Linked DNA regions of Homo sapiens: region 2 is linked to region 1. Evidence: fine-mapped expression QTL. Tissue or cell type: pancreas. Region 1 holds a variant in brackets; the other region holds the start of a gene. All regions are shown on one strand. Distances are between the middles of the regions.

Region 1 (11,252 bases):
CGAACTCCTAGGCTCAAGTGATCCACCCACCTCAGCCTCCCAAAGTGCTGGGATTTCAGGCGTGAGCCACCATGCCTGGCCATCCTCCACTTTTATTTATTTATTTATTTTTGAGACAGAGTTTTGCTCTTGTTGCCCAGGCTGGAGTGCAATGACGCGATCTCTGCTCACCCTGCAACCTCCGCCACCCGGGTTCAAGCTATTCTCCTGCCTCAGCCTCCCGAGTAGCTGGGATTACAGGCATGCACCACCACATCCAGCTAATTTTGTATTTTTAGTAGAGACGGGGTTTCTCCATGTTGGTCAGGCTGGTCTTGAACTCCCGACCTCAGGTGATCCACCCACCTCAACCTCCCAAAGTGCTGGGATTACAGGTGTGAGCCACCGTGCCTGGCCCATCCTCCACTCTTTTCAGTGAGGTTGTTTCATACATGTATCATACCAGATAGGTTATGTTGTCACAATCTGCATTCCATCTGGGATTTCCCCCAGTCCCCCAGTCTCTGTTTTAATCACTTGCTGTTCTCCCTGTTGGTGAAGGAGGGATTCCTGCCCTAGGGTAATGGGGATGACCAAACACATAACACCCAACACAACAGATGATGTGAACAGCAGTCTGTTAGTTACATATACTCTCAGCCTGGAAAAGAACACCGCATACCACTCAGGGCCACACTCTGCATTCAGGAGCAGAATGAACAATCAAGCTGTGGGAGGCAGGCTTTGTGGTATCAAGAGGATGGGGTGCCCCTGGTTCCTGTGGAGGATGTAATTGGTTGTTTGAGTAATTCCAAGAGCTGGCAGGAAACTGAAACCCACTACTCAGGGATTAGCAAAACTTTGCCCGTCCATTTGACAAAGAGCTGGGGGAGCTTACACATGGGAGCAGAGTGGGAAGGAGAACTTACCACTAGGCAATTTAAGGCCCTCCCAGTTTTACCAGATGTCAAGACAACACATAATATTGAGCCTTAATTTTAGGCCTTACACCACAACCACAACCTCCAAAATGTTTTATGGGGTGTTTTGTTTTGTTTTTTGAGACAGGGTCTCACTCTGTAGCCCTGACTAGAGTGCAGTGACATGATCATGGCTCACTACAGTCTCAATCTCTCGGGCTCATCTGATCCTCCCAGCTCAGCCTCCTAAGTAGCTGGGACTACAGATGCATACCACCATGCCTGGCTCATTTTTTATATGTTTTGTAGAGACAGGGTTTCGCCATTTTGCCCAGGCTGGTCTTGAACTCCTGGGCTCAAGCGATTTGCCCACTTCAGTCACCCAAAGTGCTGAGATTACAGGCATGAGCCACCACGCCCAGCCCAAAATGATTTTTTTAAGGATTTGCATACTTTAAGGTTCACTTTGTGCTATAAAGTTCTGTAGGTTTTGACAACTGTATAATGTCATATATCCACTATTACAGTATCATACAGAATAGTTTCATCACCCTAAAATAATAATTCCCTGTGCTTCACCTATTTAACCCTTCACCTCTTTTTACTGTCTCTATAGTTTGCCTTTTTCAGAATGTCATATAATTGGACTCATACAGTATATAGTCTTTCCAGACTGGCTTATTTCCCTTAGCAATGTGCATTTAAGGTTCATCCATATCTTTTCTGACAGCCTCAAATGCTTTTGCAAGAAGCAAAATATAAAACATAAAAACATTTAAGCAAGATTGGTCTCCACTTGAATATATTTTTTCAAACATTTGAAAATAGTTTATACTTTTTAAAGGAATCTTACAATGGTATAGTTTTGTCAAATATTACATTAAATGTATATTTCTTTTTTTTGAGATGGAGTCTCGTTCTGTCGCCAGGCTGGAGTGCAGTGGCACGATCTTGGCTCACTGCAACTTCTGCCTTACAGGTTCAAGTGATTCTCATACCTCGGCCTCCCGAGTAGCTGAGACTACAGGTGAGAGCCACCACACCCAGCTAATTTTTTTGTATTTTTAGCAGAGACAGAGTTTCACCATCTTGGCCAGGATGGTCTTGATCTCTTGACCTCGTGATCTGCCCGCCTCAGCCTCCCAAAGTGCTGGGATTATAGGCATGAGCCACAGCACCCGGCCCATTAACTGTATGTTTCAAGAGAAAATACTCCAAAGAACTAAGCAATTGTATAGCTTTGGTGGTTTCAGTAATTAATAATGTAAGAAAGAAAAGATAAAGACCTAATTATTTTTCTTTTTCTGTAAAGAACATTATTCCTTACGTAATGCTATGGTGTGAATGTTTGTGTCCTGCCAAAATTCAGATGTTGAAAACTAACCCTCAATGATATTAAGAGGTGGGGCCTTTGGGAGGTGATTAGATCATGAGAACTTTGCTCTTGTGCATGAGATTTAATGGCCTTATTAAAATGGCCCCAGAGAGCTGCTTTTCCCTTCTGTTACGTGAGGATAGCAAGAAGGCACCATCTTTGAAGCAGAGAGCCCTTACCAGACACCAAGACTGTCTGTGCCTTGATGTTGATTTCACAGCCTCTAGAACTGTGAGCTATACATTTCTATTGTTTATACATTATCCAGTCTAAGGCATTTTGTTATAGCAGCCCAAACAAATTAAGACACATACATAATCAGTATATGGAATTACTAATTTAATTCTCACAGTCTTTGTATCTGTTATTTCTCTTACACAGAGTAAAACAATTAAATTCAAGTATATCATGAAATGTGTTGAGCTTTTAATTTCAGAAATTAAGCTGGTTTTATGAGGGAAGTTCACTTTCTTTCTGTTAGGAATTTGTTCGGATATACTTTATTTTTTCTGAAATGGGTCAAATTGCTTAACTAAGAAATTTTAACACAGAGGATTTTCTAGGTGCTTCATTGGATTACGTATGCTATAATTGGCCTTTACTAAAAGCCTTTTTTTTTTGGTCTGGAATTAAGACTTTATCATGTTTTTTACTTGCTTAGGCTTCTATGTACTTATTATTAATTCAACCCAAACTCTCTACCAATTGTCTGAAATATTTCAAGACATTGAAATGCATACGGTGTGTTATCAGTTTCATCTTGAACACAGCTATCCTGGAGCTTTCTTACCTGCTTCAATTGTTTGCCTCCCACTCCCGTCTCACAGTTATCACCCAAAATTTTTCCTTCAACACCATCCTGGATATGCCTTTTCTCCTTCTCTTGTGTTGGATTTATTGTTTTCTGCATGCCATAGTTTTCCTTTTGTGTGTTTTTGTTTTTCTTTTTTTTTCCTCCCTAGTTTTAGGAGAAACGTGTCCCACAAGTAGTTTTATGAGAAAGGCTCAGGGAAGCACATTTTTCTGAGACTATATTTGTTGAAAATCTTTATTCTATTCTTACACTTTATAGTTTGGCTGGATATATATATATATAGGGTTTTAAGTTGGAAAACATTTCCTTCAGAATTTTGAAGGTATTGCTCCATCGTCTTCTAATTTCTCTTATTCTTTCTTTTCAAAGTTAAGTTTACTGAAGTATAATTTACATACAGTAAAATTCACCCTAAGTGTAGAGTTTTATATATATATATGTATGTGTATATATATGTGTGTATATATATATGTGTATATATATATATGTGTGTGTGTGTATATATATTTTATTAATTTTTTTTTAAGTAAAGACGGAGTCTCACATTGTTGCTCAGGCTGGTCTCGAACTCCTGAGCACAAGTAATCCTCCTGCCTCGGCCTCCCGAAGTGCTAGGATTACAGATTTGAGCCACCCTGCCTGGCCTAGGTGTAGAGTTCTATGAGCTTCAAAAAATGTATATAGTTGTGGCCAGGTGCAGTGGCTCATGCCTGTAATCCCACACTTTTGGAGGCCAAGGCGGGCAGATCACCTGAGGTCAGGAGCTCGAGACCAGCCTGACCAATATGGAGATACCCCTCTCTACTAAAAATATAAAATTGGCCAGATGTGGTGGCACATGCCTGTAATCCCAGCTACTAGGGAGGCTGAGGCAGGAGAATCACTTGGACCCGGGAGGTGGAGGTTGCGGGGAGCTGAGATTGCGCCATTGCACTCCAGCCTGGGCAACAAGAGCAAAACTCCATCTCAAAAAAAAAAAAAGAAAGAAAAAAGAAAAGAAACTGTATATAGTTGTGTAAATTCCATAATAAAGATATGAAATACCTCCATCACCCAAAAACATTCCCTTATGCCTTTTTGATTTCTGTCCCTCTAGTTTTGCCTTCTTCAGAATGTCATATAAAGAGAATTGTGGCCAGGTACAGTGGCTCATGCCTATAATCCCAGCATTTTGGGAGGCCAAGGCAGGTGGTCCATTTGATGTCAAGAGTTCGAGACCAGGCTGGGCGTGGTGGCTCACGCCTGTAATCCCAGCACTTTGGGAGGCCAAGGCGGGCAGATCCCAAAGGTCGGGAGTTGGAGACCAGCCTGGGCAACATGGCAAAATCCCGTTTCTACTAAAAATACAAAAATTAGCCGGGCCTGGTCGTGGGTGCCTGTAATCCTAGCTACTAGGGAGGCTGAGGCAGGAGAATTGCTTGAACCCAGGAGGCAGAAGTTGCAATGAGCGAGATCATACCATTGTACTCCAGCCTGGGCAACAGAGTGAGACTCCATCTCAAAAAAAAAAAAAATAGTTCAAGACCAGCCTGGCCAATATGGTGAAACCCTATCTCTACTAAAAATACAAAAATTAGGTGGGCATGGTGGTGAGCACCTGTAATCCCAGCTACTCCAGAGGCTGAGGCAGGAGAATTGCTTGAATCCAGGAGGCGGGGGCTGCAGTGGGTCAAGATCTTGCCACTGCACTGCACACCAGCCTGGGAGACACAGCAAGACTCTGTCTGAAAAAAAAAAAAAAAAAAAAAAAAAAAGGACCTGTACAGTATGCAGCCTTTTGTATCCAACTCCTTTCACTTAGCATAATCCTTTTGTTTTGAGACTCATCCATATTGTGTTGCATGTATCAGTAGTTCATTTATTTTTATTGATGAATAGTATTCCATTGTATGCATATACCAAAATTTGTCCATTCTCTACTTACAATGTTTAAGTTGTTTCCAGTTCTTGGAGCAGGAATAGCCTTCTATAAACATTCACACACAAGACTGTGTTTTCATTCTTCTCGAGTAGATATAGTTAAGAGTGGGATTGCTGGGGTTGTATAGTAAATGTATTGTTCACTTTATAAGAAACAGCCGCATTAAAAATTTTTTATTTCAATAGTTTTTAGGGTCCAGGTGGTTTCTGGTTACATGGATACATTCTTTAGTGGTGATTTCTGAAACTTTAACGCACCCATCACCCAAGCAGTGTACAGTGTACCCAATATACAGTCTTTTATACCTAATTTTCCTCCTGAACTTCCCTGATAAGTCCCCAAAGTCCATTACATCATTCTTATGCCTTTGCATCCTCATAGATTAGCTGCCACTTATAAGTGAGAACATATATTTGGTTTTTCATTCCTGAGTTGCTTCACTTAGAATAATGGCCACTAGCTCCATCCAAGTTGCTGCAAAAGACATTATTTCATTCCTTTTTATGGCTGAGTAGTATTCTACTGTGTATATAAAACACATTTTCTTTATCCACTCGTTGGTTGATGGGCACTTAAGTTGGTTATCTTTGCAATTGCGAATTGTGAGAAACAGCCAAATTTTTTTCAAAGTGGCCGTATCATTTTTCATTTCTACCAGCAAAGAATTTCTCATTGGCACTTGATATTGTCATTGTATATTTTTTATTTTAGCCATTCTAGTAGATGTGCAATATTATTCCATTGTATTTCAATTTGCATTTCCCTAAGGACTAATGATGTTGAGCATCTTTGCATCTGTTTATTTGCCATGCATATTTATTATTTGATGAACTATCTGTTCAGATATTTTGCCCATTTAAAAAAATTGGTTTTGGCCAGGCTCGGTGGCTCACGCCTGTAATCCCAGCACTTTGGGAGGCCGAGGCGGATGGATCATGAGGTCAGGAGATCGAGACCGTCCTGGCTAACACGGTAAAACCCCGTCTCTACTAAAAATACAAAAAAAAAATTAGCCGGGTGTGGTGGCAGGTGCCTGTAGTCCCAGCTACTCAGGAGGCTGAGGCAGGAGAATGGCGTGAACCCAAGAGGCAAAGCTTGCAGTGAGCCGAGATCGAGATCATGCCACTGCACTCCAGCCTGGGTGACAGAGTGAGACTCTGTCTCAAAAAAAAAAAAAATGTTTTTTGTTTTCTTTTCTTTTTTTTTTTTTTTGAGATGGAGTCTCACTCTGTGCAGTGGCATGATCTCCACTCACTGCAACCTCCGCCTCCCAGGTTCAAGTGATATGTATGTGTATATATATATATATATATATATACATATCATACATGTATTTATATATTTTCTCCAAACCTTTTTATTTTCTTGTGTCTTTTGGAAAACAGAGAGTTTAGTTGTGATAAAGCCCAATTTATCATTTAAAAAAATAGATAGTGCTTTTTATGTC[G/A]TATCTAAGAAATCTTTGCCTAACCCTAAGTCACAAAGATTTTCTCCTGTTTTTCTCATAGGTTTTTAGAATTTTAGGTTTTACATTTATATCGTTGATCCATCCTGACTTAGTGGTACAAGTCAAGGTTTGAGAGTCTTTTAATTTTATTAAAAATATTTTTTCTGTTCACCTGCAGTTCCATGCAGAGATTCTACTTATTTATTTATTTAACTCTGTTAAGTCTCAGAACAGAGACTCTATTTTTATTTTATTTTTGCATATGGATGTCTAGTTGTTCCAGTACAATTTGCTGAAAAGATTATCCTTTCTTGATTGAATTACCTTGACATCTTTGTCAAAAATCAATGACCATATTTCTGTGAGCCTATATCTGGATTCCATTATGTTTCACTGGTGTATATATCTATTATTACACCAATACTCACTATCTTGACTACTGAAGCTAGTAAAGCCTTGGTTGTTTTTGTTTGTTTGTTTGTTTGTTTGTTTGAAGAGCTGTTTTACTATTCCATTAAGATATGCCATAATTTATTTAACTCAACCTCAACCTCTACTTAGGGGATTTAGTTGTTTCTACTTTTCTTTTTCTTTTCTTTTCTTTTCTTTTTTTTTTTTTTTTTTGAGACACAGTTTCACTCTTGTTGCCCAGGCTGGAGTGCAATGGCATGATCTCAGCTCACTGCAACCTCCACCTCCCGGGTTCAAGCGATTCTCCTGTCTCAGCCTCCTGAGTAGCTGGGATTACAGGTGCCCACCACTACGCCCAGCTAATTTTGGGTATTTTTAGTAGAGAGGGGTTTTCACCATGTTGGCCAGGCTGGACTCCTGACCTCAGGTGATCCACCCACCTCAGCCTCCCAAAGTGCTGGGATTACAGGTGTGAGCCACCGTGCCCAGCCTTCACTTTTCACTCTTGTTGCCCAGGCTGGAGTGCAATGGTGCGATCTCGGCTCACTGCAGCTCTGCCTCCTGTGTTCAAACGATTCTCCTGCCTCAGCCTCCCAAGTAGCTGGGATTACAGGTGCCTGCTACCATGCCCGGCTAATTTTCTGTATTTTTAGTAGAGATGTGGGTTTTCACCATGTTGGGTAGGCTGGTCTTCTAGTGATCTACCCACCTTGGCTTCCCAAAGTTCTGGGATTACAGGCATGAGCCACGCCTGGCCAGTTGTTTCTACTTTTCTACTTCCTTTTTCTTTTTTTCTTTTCTTTTTTTTTTTTTTTTTTGAGACAGAATCTCACTCTGTCACCCAGGTTGGAGTGCAGTAGCATGCTCACAGCTGCAGCCTCAACCTCCTGGGCTCAAGTGATCCTGCCACCTCAGCCTCCCTGGTAGCTGGGGCTACAAGTATGTGCTATGATGCCTGGCTAAATTTTGTATTTTTTGTGGAGATGGGGTTTCGCCATGTTGTCCAGGCTGGTCTTGAACTTCTGGGTTCAAGCAATCTGTCTACCTTGGCCTCCCACAGTGCTGGGATTACAGGCATGAGCCACCACATCCTGTAATCCCAGCACAGCTGCTCTATTTTCTTGTATTATAAATAATACAGCAACAAATTTCCATGGGTAAAACATTGTGTCTTTGTGATAGTGTACATGTTTAGCATTTGGGAATGCTGGTCCAATGTTTCCCAAAATTTCCTCCTAGTTATTAGGTCTAGTTTCAGGTCCAGGCCCACTTGCATCAGCTGTATCATGTAATCAACCAAGCTGTGTGTGGCTGTGTTCTAAGGCACTATGTCTGATCTTAAACAGTGTGCCTTACCTACTAGCTCTATGTTAAAGATTCCCTACTTTCTTCCCTCTTTGGTCAGTTCATGCAAGCCATAGAAAGGTACTTCCTTAAGAAAACAAAAATAAGATGCCCTTTTAGAGTTGAAAAAGTGTGTGTCAGGTCATCAAGGATATTCTGCCTGCTTGACAATTATTTTTGATCATTAGCAAACCAGTGTTCAAACAAGTTTTGATTGGGAGTGAATCACTTTGCTGATTAATCACTGAGGCAAGTTGTAAAACTATTCTTCGTCTGTTTGGGCTGCTGTAACAAAATACCATGAACTGGGTAGATTATTCTTAGGCTATTCTTGCATTTCTATAAAGAAATACCTGAGATTGGGTAATTTACAAAGAAAAGAGGTTTCATTAGCTCATAGCTCTGCAGGCTGTACAGGAAACATGGCAACGACATCTGCTCAGCTTCTGGGGAGGCCTCAAGGAGCTTTTACTCATGGTGGAAGCCAAAGCGGGAGCAGGCATCTTACATGGTACGACAGGAGCAAGCGAGAGTGGTGGGAGGTGCCACACACTTTCAAACGACCAGATCTCATGAGAATTCACTAGCTAGAGGATGGCACCAAGCCATGAGGGGTCTGCCCCTCATGACCCAAATACCTCCCACCTGGCCCCACTTCCACCATTGGGGATTACTGTTCAACATGAAATTTGGTGGAGACATATATTCAAACGATACTATATATTCATATATATATTCAAACTATATCAATTATATACAACGAAAATGTATTTCTCACAGTTCTGGAGGCTGGGAAGTCCAAGATCAAGGTGTAGGCAGATTCAGTGTCTAGTGAGGGCCATTTCTGCTCCCAGGATGGTATCTTGAATGCTGCATCCTTACAAATGCTGTGTCCTCATATGGTGGAAGGGATAGAAAGACAAAAGGGGACAAACGCTATTTCCTTATGTGATGGAAGGCTTAGGGCAAACAGGGCCATACTGGGTGTGAAGCCTGTTTTATAAAGTCCTTATTCGCATTCATGGGGATGAGCCCTCATGACCTCACTACCTCCTAAAGGCCCCACCCCTCAATACTATAACATTGGGACATTAAGTTTCCACTTGAATTTTGGAGTGAGCTATTGTTAGAATATTTATCCCCATCAAAATGTATGTTGAAATTTAATTGTCATTATAACAGTGTTAAGTGGGACCTTTAAGAAGTGATCCTGGCTGGGCAAGGTGGCTCACACTTGTGATCCCAGCACTTTGGGAGGCTGAGGTGGGTGGATCATTTGAGGTCAGGAGTTCGAGACTAGCCTGACCAACATGGTAAAACCCCATCTCTGCAAAAAAAATTCAAAAATTAGCTGGGTGTGGTGGCATGTACTGTAGTACCAGCTACTTGGGAGGCTGAGCCAGGAGAATTGGTTGAACTAGGGAGGCGGAGATTGCAGTGAGCCGAGATGACACCACGGCACTCCAGCCTCGGTGACAGAGCGAGACTCCGTCTCAAAAACAAAACAAAAAAGAAGAGGTGATCCTGCTCTCATGAGTGGAATTAATAAGGGTGAATTCAGCCTCCTTTTGTCTCTCTTGTCCTTCGTTCTTCTGCCATATGAAGATGCAGTAAGAAGGCCCACACAAGCTGCCTGCACCTTGATCTTGGACTTCCAGTCTCTAAAATTGTAACAGTATAAATTCCTGTTCTTTGTAAATATCCAGTCTCAGTTATTCTGTTATAGCAGCAAAAAACAGACTAAGACAAAAGAACACAAACACAAACCATAGCAAGCTCTAAGCTGTATTAAAATGATATTTGGGACCGGGCGCAATGACTCATGCCTGTAATCCCAGCACTCTGGGAGGCCGAGGTGGGTGGATCACCTGAGGTCAGGAGTTCGAGACCAGCCTGACCAACATGGAGAAACCCCGTCTCTACTACAAATACAAAATTAGCTGGGCGTGATGGTGCATGCCTATAATCCCAGCTACTTGGGAGGCTGAGGCAGGAGAATCGCTTGAAGCCGGGAGGCAGAGGTTGCAGGGTAAGCCGAGATAACGCCATTGCACTCCTGCCTGGGCAACAAGAGCAAAACTCCATCTCAAAAAAAAAAAAAAAAAAAAAAAAGATAATTGGTAAACGTCAGAAAGGGGTCTGTCATTCCTCCAGGGCTAGGCTCCTGCAATGTGGTGGCTTCTCCAGCATTAGACTCCTGCCATGTGCACTGACCAGAGGCACCTCATGACTACAAGCTTCCCAAAGAACCTTTTTGAGCAGCTTCACAGCAGAATGCTGTTGACAAGCCACCTCCTCAGTGCAACTGGTGCTCTTTCTGGTGGTTTTCCAGGATGTCCCAGAGGCAAGACACATCATCTAGTGAGCTATGTTGCACTTTCTCTGACATCTAGATCTCAGCTCTGGGGATAAGGAGGACTCTTCCTTGGGTGCTGTATCTCAGCTCCAGGGACAGTGGCTACTCCATTTCTGCTTTCTCTTTAGAGTTCTTTTTAACTTCTAATACCCAGCCCCTCATTACCTGAATCCCTTAAACTTCGTGTTCAAATTACTGTTATTTCTTTCTCTTCACTGAACTCTGATATGCTGTTTTTATTAGATGTTTAAATGTTTTATTTTACATTCTGCTGCTGAGCAATGTTTAAATTTTTATACTCTACATGTTATTTATACGTACATAGTGAATTACCATGTTTTAGTCCAATAATCAAGGTTTTTTGTTGGTGGTGGTTTTTTTGAGACACAGTTTTGCTCTGTCACCCAGGCTGGAATGCAGTGGCACAATCTCAGCTCACTGCAACCTCCGCCTACTGGGTTCAAGCAATTTTTGTGCCTCAGTCCCCCGAGGAGCTGGGATTACAGCTGCTTGCCTCCATGACCAACTAATTTTTTGTATTTTTAGTAGAGATGGGGTTTCAGCATGTTGTCCAGGCTGGTCTCAAACTCCTGAGCTCAGGCAATCTGCCTGCCTTGGCCTCCCAAAGTGCTGGGATTACAGGCGTGAGCCACCACGGCTGGCCCAAGGTTTACTTATTGCAAAG
Region 2 (11,038 bases), 23 kb after region 1:
GACTCTGTCTCAAAAAAAACTGAGAAAACTAAAAATAAAATGTTGCCAGAGCTGCTTTCCGTTCTAGGAGGGAGAATCTGTTTTCTTTCCTTTCTCAGCTTCTAGAGACTGCCCAAACTCCTTGGTTTATTGCTCCCTTGCATCTTCAAAACCAGTGATACTGTAGTTCCCCCCCGTTTCTGTGGGTTAAGTTCCAACACCCTCAGTGGATGCCTGAAACCACAATACCAAACCCTATATATACTGTTTTTTCGGTACATGTGTACCTGTGATGAAGTTAAATTTATGAATTAGGCACCATAAAAGATTAACAACAACTAATAGAACAATCATAACAGTATACTGTAATAAAAGTTATGTGAATGTGGTCGGTCTCTTTTTCTCAAAATATCTTATTGTCCTGTACTCAACTATTTTTAAACCATGGTTGGCCATGGGGTAACAAACCCTGAAATCCTGCAAAGGGAAACCTTGGATAAGTGGAGACTACTGTAGTCTTTCTCACATTGCATTACTCTTTATTCTGCATCTGTCTTATTCTTTTTCCTTTCCTTTTATTTTTATTTGTAGTAGAGACAAGGTCTCACTGTTGTCCAGACTGGTCTTGAACTCCTGAATCTTCCTGTCTTGGTCTCTCAAAGGGTTCGGGTGCCCTGCCATCCTTCTCCTACTTTTAAGGCCCCTTGTGATTACATTGACTCCATCCAGGTAACTTCCTTATCTCGAGTTTCGCTAATTAGCAACCTTAATTCCCTCTGCAATTATAATTGTCCTTTGCCACATAACCTAATTTATTCGTAGGTTGAGGGGATTAATACCTTGTTATCTTTGGAGACAGCCATTATTCTGCCTACCACGGGGACTATGAGAAATGAGGTCAGTGTAGAAAAGGTAGGACAGGTGTCAACCATTAAGGAACCAAGCAGTGTGACAGGCATTATGTCAGTCTCTTTACTCCAGACATTCCCAGAATTGAAGACAGGAGAGAATTATTTTTCCTCCTCTCTCTAGTGTTCGGTGGTTCTTTTTGGTGTATGTCAAACCATGTAAATTTTGCCCTGATCAAGTAAACCCTTGGCTTTCTTTAAAGAGGTCTATGAAGGCTAGTCAGACCCTCCAATTTTCTATACAATTGCTAGGTTTAGGTCAGGGCTAGTGACTGTATCAACTTTTTTTTTTTTTTTTTTTTTGAGACAGGGTCTCACCTGTCACCTGGCCTGGAGTGCAGTGGTGCCATCGCGACTCACTGCAACCTCTACCTCCCGGGTTCAAGCAATTCTTGTGCCTCAGCCTCCCAAGTAGCTGGGACTACAGGCGCACGCCACCACCACGCCTGGCTAATATTTTGTATTTTTAGTAGAGACAGGGTTTCACCATGTTGGCCAGGCTGGTCTCGAACTCCTGACCTCCAGTGATCAGCACCCCCTCAGTCTCCCAAAGTTCTGGGATGACAGGTGTGAGCCACCACGCCCAGCCAGGACTAGATCAACATCTGAAACGGATGATCTAAGGCTGTTAGCCTAGGCATTCACCCCCTGACATTTTGCTTTTTGGCAGTGATAGAAACTATGTTAAGTCCTGCATCCATGGTTCTGATACAATCAAGTCTCTTGACCACCAGGACTCAGCACTGAGACCTGCCTCTTTTTATTTCTACAATACATGAAATTACTGTTGACTTTTGTCTTTAAAACATCACATAAATTCATTAGGAGCAATTCAAGGGAGAATTTACTGTACATTCATACCTATGATAAAGTTTAATTTATGAATTAGCACGGTAAGATTAACAACAACTAATAATAAGGCTGGGTGCGGTGGCTTACACCTGTATCCCAGCACTTTGGGAGGCTGAGGCAGGCAGATCACCTGAGGTTGGGAGTTCGAGACTAGCCTAACAAAACAAAACAAAAAAAGCTCAAAAAACAACAATAATAAAATAGAACACATTTAAAACTTTTAATCCTGTGTTATTATTCTGATTTGAGGTCTATACTTTCAATTTTGTACCTCCTGGCTATATTTTATATAATAGAGAACATCCTGGTTACACTCATCCTTCCCCCACCTCACTTCCTTTGCATTCTAAGGCTGTGGTATGCAAATTTCTGTTATTAAGAAACAATTTTTTTTTTTGAGACGGAGTTTTGCTCTTGTTGCCCAGGCTGGAGTGCAATGATGCTATCTTGGCTCACCGCAACCTCCGTCTCCCGGGGTCAAGTGATTCTCCTGCCTCAGCCTCTCAAGTAGCTGGGATTACAGGCATCGACCACCATGCCCGGCTAATTTTGTATTTTTAGTAGAGATGGGGTTTCTCCATGTTGGTCAGGCTGGTCTTGAACTCCCGACCTCAGGTGATCCGCCCACCTCAGCCTCCCAAAGTGCTGGGATTACAGGCGTGAGCCACCGCACCCGGCCATCAACAAACAATTTAAACTAGACAGCCTGGCATGGTGGCTTACACTTGTAATCGCAGCACTCTGGGAGGCTAAGGTGGGAGGATCACTTGAGCCCAGGACAGCCTGGGCAACATAGAGAGACCCCATCTCTACAAATAATAAAAAAAATATGGTTCACGCCTGTAATCTTAGCACTTTGGGAGGCCAAGGCGGGAAGATTGCTTAAACCGAGGAGTTCGAGACCAGCCTGGACAATGTAGTGAAACCCTGTCTCCACAAAATTTTTTTTTTAAAAAGAGCTGAACAGGTTGGCGCAAGCCTATACTCCCAGCTGCTCAGGAAGCTGAGGGGGGAGGATTGCTTGAGCCCAGGAGTTTGAGGCTGCTGTGAGCTATGATTGCACCATTGCACTCCAGTCAGGGCAACAGAGTGAGACTCTGTTTCAAAACAAAACAAAAGGAAAACTTGTAGAAAGAAGTTTAAATTTCAGTGCTAAGTTTCCCACTTCAAGTGAACACTTTTTTCCCATTGGCTTTGAAATCTCAGAAAGGTTACTGTGAGAAAGGAGCATATTTAGGGTTGAGCATTGGAGAGGAGACTGGTGGTTTGGGACACCTGTTATTAAAGTACCTTCCTGGTCAAGTTGAACAACAACAACAAAAAATTGGCAATCTTTATGACAGTGCCAATCAAATTGTGGACATGAGGTGGGATGCATCACTTGAAAGCCATACTTTTGAGATACATATTTTAAAACTCTTACCTAGAGTATAATGGTGGTTACCAGAGAGAGGCTGGGAGTTGCGGGGAAGGGAAGGGTGCTGGTCAAAGGATACAAAGTCACAGACAGGAGGAATAAATTATAAGTATTGAAGGTGATGTATATGTTAATTTGAGTGAATCATTCCATACTGCATACATATAAAATTACTGAATATCCCATAACTATATATGATTATAATTGGTCAAAGTAAATAAAAATTTTAAAACTCTTCAATTTTATAAAACTCTTACCTAATATTAATTTTTAATATCATATGAGGATTTTTTTTTTTAAGAGCCTAGGCTAGAGTAACTTACTACAACCTCAAACTTCTGGGCCGAAGCAGCTCTCCTGCCTCAGCCTCCTGTCCCAAGCAGCTGGGACTACAGATGCGCACCATCACGACCAGATAATTTTTAAATTTTTTGTAGAGACAGGGTCTTGCTATGTTGCTCAGGTTGGCCTCAAACTCCTGGTCTCAAGTGATCTTCCTCAGACTCCCAAAGTGCTGGGATTACAGGCATGAGCCACCTCGCCCAGCCAGGATTTTAAAATTCTTTTTTAACCTTGGAGATACCAGAATTGTATTACTCATTATCCTTGGTTCCTAATAGCATTGGTTCATGCATGTTCTGCTTTTATTTACATATTAGCTATTTACCTTTAACAATATAGTAGCCCTGATAGGCCCAACTCCTACATTGTAGGACATCCATGATCTCCTCCCCAATCCCATCCCATCCCCAAGCTCCCCATATGCGAGGTAACCATCATTCTGAATTTCATATTTATCATTCTTTGCTTTTTGTTTTGTATAATTTTAATGACTTCATGTATACTCTTAAATGTAAGGGTGTGTTTATTTTCAACTTTTAAAAAGGTTGTCATACTGTATATAATCTTTTGGGATTTACAGTTTTTCCTTACTATTGTTATGATTTCTCTATATTGTGGGTCACTGAAGTTCATTCTTTTTGAATGCCATGTAATATTATGTTATAAGAAATATCACAGTTTATTCATCCAGTATCCTGTTGCTAGTTATGCAGATCGCTTTCAGGTTCTTGTGAACTATGAAGGAGTAAATAAAGACCAACCAGGTAATTTTCTTAAAATAAATAATAATAAAAAACCAAAAATGTAAAATATTAAATAGTAATGTTTAAAGTGGAAGTATAAATCTCCCTGTAGTCATATTCTCAGAGATAACCAGTGTTAAAATTTGGGATATCTCTTGTCTTCTTTAAAATATAATGCATATCTGCATATACATATTATATACATATACTATATACACATTAAGTTTTTTAAAACAAAAATGAGATCTATAACTTGCTGTTTCCATAGCAATATATCATGGATATCATTACTTGTCAATATGTAGAGATGTACTTTATCCTTTTTAACAGTTCTTTGGTGTTTCACTGTCGACATGTCAATATTTATTCCCTAAACCCCAACTTTGGTTATTTTCAATTTTGTACTGTTGTAAACAATGTTGTAATGCAGATTCTTGTACATACATCTTCGGGCATTTGCTCAATTATTTCCTTAAGATAATTTCCTAGAACTGGAATTGCTGGGTTGAAGGATATGAAGTTTTATTTTTGTCTGTCTTCAACTTTATTTATTTATTGCTGTATATTGCCATATTGCCCACCAAATATCAATTAATAATTTACATTCTTGGCATCATAGTATAGTTCTCTGAGCAGGGAATACCTAGTCCAACCTGAAGTTCAAGAGCGACTTCTTGGAGGAGGTGACCCTGGGTCTGAGTCATGGTGAGAATTTATCAAGACTTCAAAAGAGCAGATAAATAATCCACAAGGACCCCGGATCAGAGAGTGCTCCGAGCTGGGTTGCCCCACTGTGCTTGTATCTGCACTCTCCAACACTAGGCATCATTGACATGTTAAAGCTTAGCCAAATAGAATTGTTCTTTGTCATTCTTTTTTTAACTTTTACTTATTCATTAGGATGATTTCATAATATATTTCCTGGTTTAGAGGAAACAGGAACAATGGCTACCGAGAGTACTCCCTCAGAGATCATAGAAAGAGAAAGAAAAAAGTTGCTTGAAATCCTTCAACATGATCCTGATTCTATCTTAGACACGTTAACTTCTCGGAGGCTGATTTCTGAGGAAGAGTATGAGACTCTGGAGAATGTTACAGATCTCCTGAAGAAAAGTCGGAAGCTGTTAATTTTGGTACAGAAAAAGGGAGAGGCGACCTGTCAGCATTTTCTCAAGTGTTTATTTAGTACTTTTCCACAGTCAGCTGCCATTTGCGGCTTAAGGCATGGTAAGTTGACTTTGTATACTTTTTGGGGTGAGAGGAAGGGGGCAGACTTTCTGAAAAAGAAAACAAAATGAAAGAAAATTGTTGCCTTTTATTTTTGTTAGTCTTTTTCTGGAGATAATTTTCATTGAAATATGAAATAGGGAAAAACTGGAATTTAAAAAGTTTCTGAAATTTAACATCTTATTGGTCTACTGAATCGATAATTTGTTTTTCAGACTGTACTCAAAACTTGAAGTTGTTTTAGTGCTAACAAACTGCTCATTATTCTGGCAGTAACATGCTAAAATCTCACAGTTGGAAGGAAAATACTTTAATAATAACACAATCCAGGGTTTGTTTTTCAAGTAGATGAATTCGTGGATATTTACAGTGCCAAGACCACAAGCTGTATCTTTCACTTAGTATAGCCGTTTTGAAAATACAAGGAAAATAATTTTTAACACATAGATGGCAAATCAGTAGTTTCATTTTTTTGGTGATAAGAATGCCAGCAGCAGCTGTTTTCTGGAGCAATTCCAGTGCTAATTCTTAAATGGTTCAAAGATAACTAGTAGTCCATGAAAAAGCAATTCTTCCAGTTATTTAGCAATTCTGTAAATTACTACTAGGACTAGGTCTAGCTCTTTTTCTAGGAATCTAAAAAAAAATTCAAAATTATTTTAAGGGATGTTAGAGAGGTAGAGGCTCAGATAAAAAGGTGAATGTTAGTGATACCTAATTTAGGACAAGATTTATATGCTTAGAAATTTTTCTTTTATTATTTCTAAAGCACACTATTCCAAATAGAGCCATTTGCTTACTGATTAGAAATTATTTGTGATCAGATTTCATTAGCAATGACCCCAAGAGACGTGAGTCTGTTGTGAGTCACAGTAAGTCCACAAGTAAACACTGTTCATATGATTCAAATTTTTCGTTTTATTCACTTACCCTGTAAGGTTGCTAGGAAGGACTCAAACTTTAAGCAAGACAGTGGTGTGATCTGATTTTTTTTTTTAGTGGAAAAAAGAAAGTTCTGAAAGTTGACATGTTGACATGCAAGTTATATAGGAGGTGTTAGGTATTCCTGTCCTCCAGTGAAATAAGAGGTGGCTGGGCGCTGTGGCTCACACCTGTAATCCCAGCACTTTGGGAGGCCGGGGCAGATGGATCACCTGAGGTCAGGAGTTTGAGACCAGCCTGACCAACATAGTGAAACACTGTCTCTACTAAAAATACAAAAATTAGCTGGGCATCATGGCGCATGCCTGTAATCCCAGCTACTTGGGAGACTGAGGCAGGGGAATCACCTGAACCCGGGAGGTTGAGGTTGCAGTGAGCCCAGATCGTGCCATTGCACTCCAGCCTCGGCAACAAGAGTGAAACTCTGTCTCAAAAAATAAATAAATAAATAAAAGGAGAGGGATGAAGCTTTGAGGCCTCAGGAACTCTAGCTGTTATACAGCTTCTTTTTCTTAATTGGGAAAAACAATTCTTTTCTTTGCAGAAGTTTTAAAACATGAGAATACAGTACCTCCTCAATCTATGGGGGCAAGCAGTAATTCAGAAGATGCTTTTTCTCCTGGAATAAAACAGCCTGAAGCCCCTGAGATCACAGTGTTCTTCAGTGAGAAGGAACACTTGGATTTGGAAACCTCTGAGTTTTTCAGGGACAAGAAAACTAGTTATAGGGAAACAGCTTTGTCTGCCAGGAAGAATGAGAAGGAATATGACACACCAGAAGTCACATTATCATATTCAGTTGAGAAAGTTGGATGTGAAGTTCCAGCAACTATTACATATATAAAAGATGGACAGAGATATGAGGAGCTAGATGATTCTTTATACTTAGGAAAAGAGGAATATCTAGGATCTGTTGACACCCCTGAAGATGCAGAAGCCACTGTGGAAGAGGAGGTTTATGATGACCCAGAGCACGTTGGATATGATGGTGAAGAGGACTTCGAGAATTCAGAAACCACAGAGTTCTCTGGTGAAGAACCAAGTTATGAGGGATCAGAAACCAGCCTTTCATTGGAGGAGGAACAGGAGAAAAGTATAGAAGGTATGGAAATATCTTGTATAGTTAGTTAGGCAACAACTTAATAAGTTAATAAGCTTGCCATGACATAATGGGGATGGGGGATGAAAAAGGGACAGATGTCAGCAGAAAATCAACTACTAAGAAATTCCTCGTGCCTCTCTGACCTGGAATCTCCTCGAGGTAGGTGTTGACTTAAAGGAGCTCCCAGGACCTAGGAAATGATGGACAGCATAAGCAAAAGTAAATATTGATTGTCAGTTTGTAAATTTCTGTAGTTCGTATAAGGAGTTGCCAATCATTAATTTCCCATTATACGTACGAGGAGTTGCTAATCATTAATTTCAGGCTAACCTATTTCTCAGGTTAAACCACTTTAGTTATTTTAGTGCCTTTGTGACCAGAGAGATATGGGGATTATGGGTTTGACTATTTAAGTGAAAACAGTCAGTAAATGGCTAAGATCCCAAAATATTGTTACTTGGCTTGATCCAGTCCACATAATGCCATCTTGATGAGAATTATATTTGTATCTTGAATCTGAATATTTCTTTATTTAAAAAAAATTTGTTTTTAAACAGGGTCTCACTCAGGCTGGAGTGCAGTGGCACAATCATGACTCACCGCAGCCTCTACCTCCCAGGCTCGGGTGATCCTCCTACCTCAGCCTCCTGAGTAGCTAGCATTACAGGTGCCTGCCACCACGCCTGGCTAATTTTGTATTTTGTAAAGATGGGATTTTGCCATGTTGCTCAGGCTGGTCTCGAACTCCTGGGCTCAAGTGATCTGCCCACCTTGGCCACCCAAAATCCTGGGATTACAGGTGTGAGCCACTGCACCTAGCCAAATCTGAATATTTCTTAATGAAAATTCAAAATATGAGAAGTGTTTCATTGGAGTGATATTGCCTGGGAAAACAGACATCACTAAGTTCTGAGTAGAGGATGAAAATGTAGCTACCATCTCACATTAATTTCAAATCTTGGGGACTCATAATCCACTTATGGGTAGGAAGAGAGTCATTTCTTCCTCATCACACCTTGTATCAGTTTGTGAGGGATGCTGTAACAAAATACCACAAAATCAGTGGCTTAAACAATAAACACAGATTTCTTGTCTCACTCTTTTGGAGGCTAGAAATCTGAAATCAAAGTATCAAAGTACTGACAGGGTTGCTTCCTTCTTTTTTTTTTTTTTTTTTTGAAACAGAGTCTCACTCGTCGCCCAGGCTGGAGTGCAATGGTGTGACCTTGCTCACTGTACCCTCCGCCTCCCGGGTTCAAGCGATTCACCTGCCTCAGCTCCCCAGGTAGCTGGGATTACAGGTGCGTGCCACCACGCCTGGCTAATTTTTGTTGTTTTAGTAGAGACGAGGTTACACCATGTTGGCCAGGCTGGTCTCGAACTCCTAACCTCAAGTAATCCACCCACCTTGGCCTCCCAAAATGCTGGGATTAAGGCATGAGCCACTGTGCCTGGACAAGGGTTGGTTCCTTCTGAAGGATGTGATCTGAAGGATCCTAGCTTTCCTGGTGGTTTGCTGGAAATCATTGACACTGCTTGGCTTGTGCAAGCATCCCTCTGATATGCCTTCACCTTCAAATGTCCTTGTCCCTGAGTGTGCACCCCTTTGGCCAAAATAAAAAAGGACACCAGTCATATTGGATTAGGGCCCACCCTAATAACATTATTAAAACTAATTACATCTGCAATGGCCCTATTTCCAAATAACATCACATTCTGAGGTACTGGGGGTTAGGATTTCAACATATGAATTTTGTAAGGGACATAATTCAACCCATGCCTCTTGCCCCACCCCCAAATAACTTCTTAATACATGATTATTTTGGGGCCCCATTCTTAATTTTTATTTATTTATTTTAGTTGGTGCATAGGGTTGAATTAATTAATTCATTGCATAGTATCATCATTATTCTGCAAAAATCCCCTGTTTATCTATTCTGTTTTTTTCTCCATTTCCCATTTACCTTCTTCCGTAGGTAACATTCTAATATTGCAGTGCATCTCTTACATATTGTTTGGTTTTCATGAAATTTTTTTTCTGTATCAGGTACTGACTGGGTTTCACCACGTTGCCCAGGCTGGTCTTGAACTCCTGGCCTCAATAATGCTACATAACAAATCATCTGAAAATTCAGTCACTTCAAACACTGAGAGTTTATTATTGTTCACATGTCTGTGGTTGGCTGGGCAGTTCTGCTGGTCTTCCCTGGGTTCACTCATGCATCTGTGATGAGGTGGTTGAAGGCTGGTCTCTCATCTTCAAGCAGGCTACTCTGGGCTTGTTTTCAGAATAGATGCAGTATATTCTTTTTTTTTTTTTTGAGATGGAGGCTCACTCTGTTGCCCAGGCTGGAGTGCAGTGGCATGATCTTGGCTCACTGCAACCTCTGCCTCCTGGGTTCAAGCGATTCTCCTGCCTCAGCCTCCTGAGTAGCTGGGATTACAGGTGCCCACTACCACGCCTGGCTAATTTTTGTATTTTTAGTAGAGATGGGGTTTCACCATGTTGGCCAGGCTGGTCTCGAACTCTTGACCTCAGGTGATCCACCCACCTCGGCCTCCCAAAGTGCTGGAATTATGGACATGAGCCACCGCGCCTGGCCAAGTATATTCTTATGATGAGGGTAAAGGAGAGAGAAAGGGAGAGAGAGCAAGGTGGAGGGGGGGAGACAGAGAAGTAGTGAAGGCCTTTTGAGTCTTAGCTTTAGAACGATCATCATGCCATCTATGCCATCTGTATCTGTTTCCTAGGGCTGCTGTAACAAAGTACCACAAATGAGTGGCTTTAGAACAACAAAAATTTCTTGTCTCACAGTTCAGGAGGCCAGAAGCCTGATATCAAGGTATCAGGAGGGTCATGCTCCCTCTGGAGGTGCTAGGAAAGGATTTGTCTCAGGCTTCTCTCCTAGCCCCTGGTAGCTTCGTGCATTCCTTGACTTACAGATGGCCATTTTCTCCCTGTGTCTCTTCACATCATCTATCCTCTGTGCATGTCTCTGTGTCTAAATTTTTCTTTTTTATTAAGACACCAATTATACTGATTTAGGCCCCCCTCCATGACCTTATTTTAACTTAATTACCTCTGTAAAGATAAAGATGCTATTTACAAAATAAAGCCACATTCTGCATTACTGGGGGACTTCATATCTTTTTGAGGGGGACAAAATTCAACCCATAACACCATTACTTCTGCCACATTCTGTTGACCAAAGCAAGTCTCAAAGCCAGGTTTAGGGTTGGGGGAAAACAAGTTCTACTTCTTGCAAAATAAGATAGCAAAGACTATGGATACCAGAAAGCCATTAACTGGGGACATTATTACAATCAGTCTAACATCTTTAGTAAAACAGATCAAGAGAAGTCTTAATAATAATGTAGTTATGATCTGCAATGTAATTCTAATGGCTGCCCATCCACTCTAGTTGACTGGAGGCACGTGGCTATTCTTTGTTTCTTTCCCAAGTAATATTTGTCTGTGCAGCTGAGAAATGAAAAAAATAGTTCTAAATCAAAGGAAGGTCTTCAT

Alleles and levels. Alleles are on the strand shown, and positions count from the first base shown. SD is a standard deviation of normalised expression in the study named.
In carriers of allele A in region 1, the expression in pancreas of the gene that starts at base 5,170 in region 2 tends to be lower than with G alone (small effect, 0.33 SD a copy in GTEx).

Evidence for each region. PIP is the estimated chance that this variant, and not a neighbour inherited with it, causes the effect.
Region 2: it holds the start of CARD6, and the variant in region 1 is fine-mapped to the expression of CARD6 in pancreas (GTEx, PIP 0.92).

Annotation. Positions count from the first base shown.
Region 1 is chr5:40,813,171-40,824,422 of GRCh38, forward strand. No RefSeq gene overlaps it. Among named protein-coding and RNA genes, the nearest start is that of SNORD72, 14 kb to the right of the region's middle. The variant G/A (reference allele first, on the strand shown) is at 6,457.
Region 2 is chr5:40,836,198-40,847,235 of GRCh38, forward strand. It overlaps CARD6 (caspase recruitment domain family member 6), which reads left to right and starts at 5,170. Exons shown (of 3, transcript NM_032587.4): 1 at 5,170-5,468; 2 at 6,955-7,512. The coding sequence starts at 5,186. RefSeq lists an enhancer at 1-427.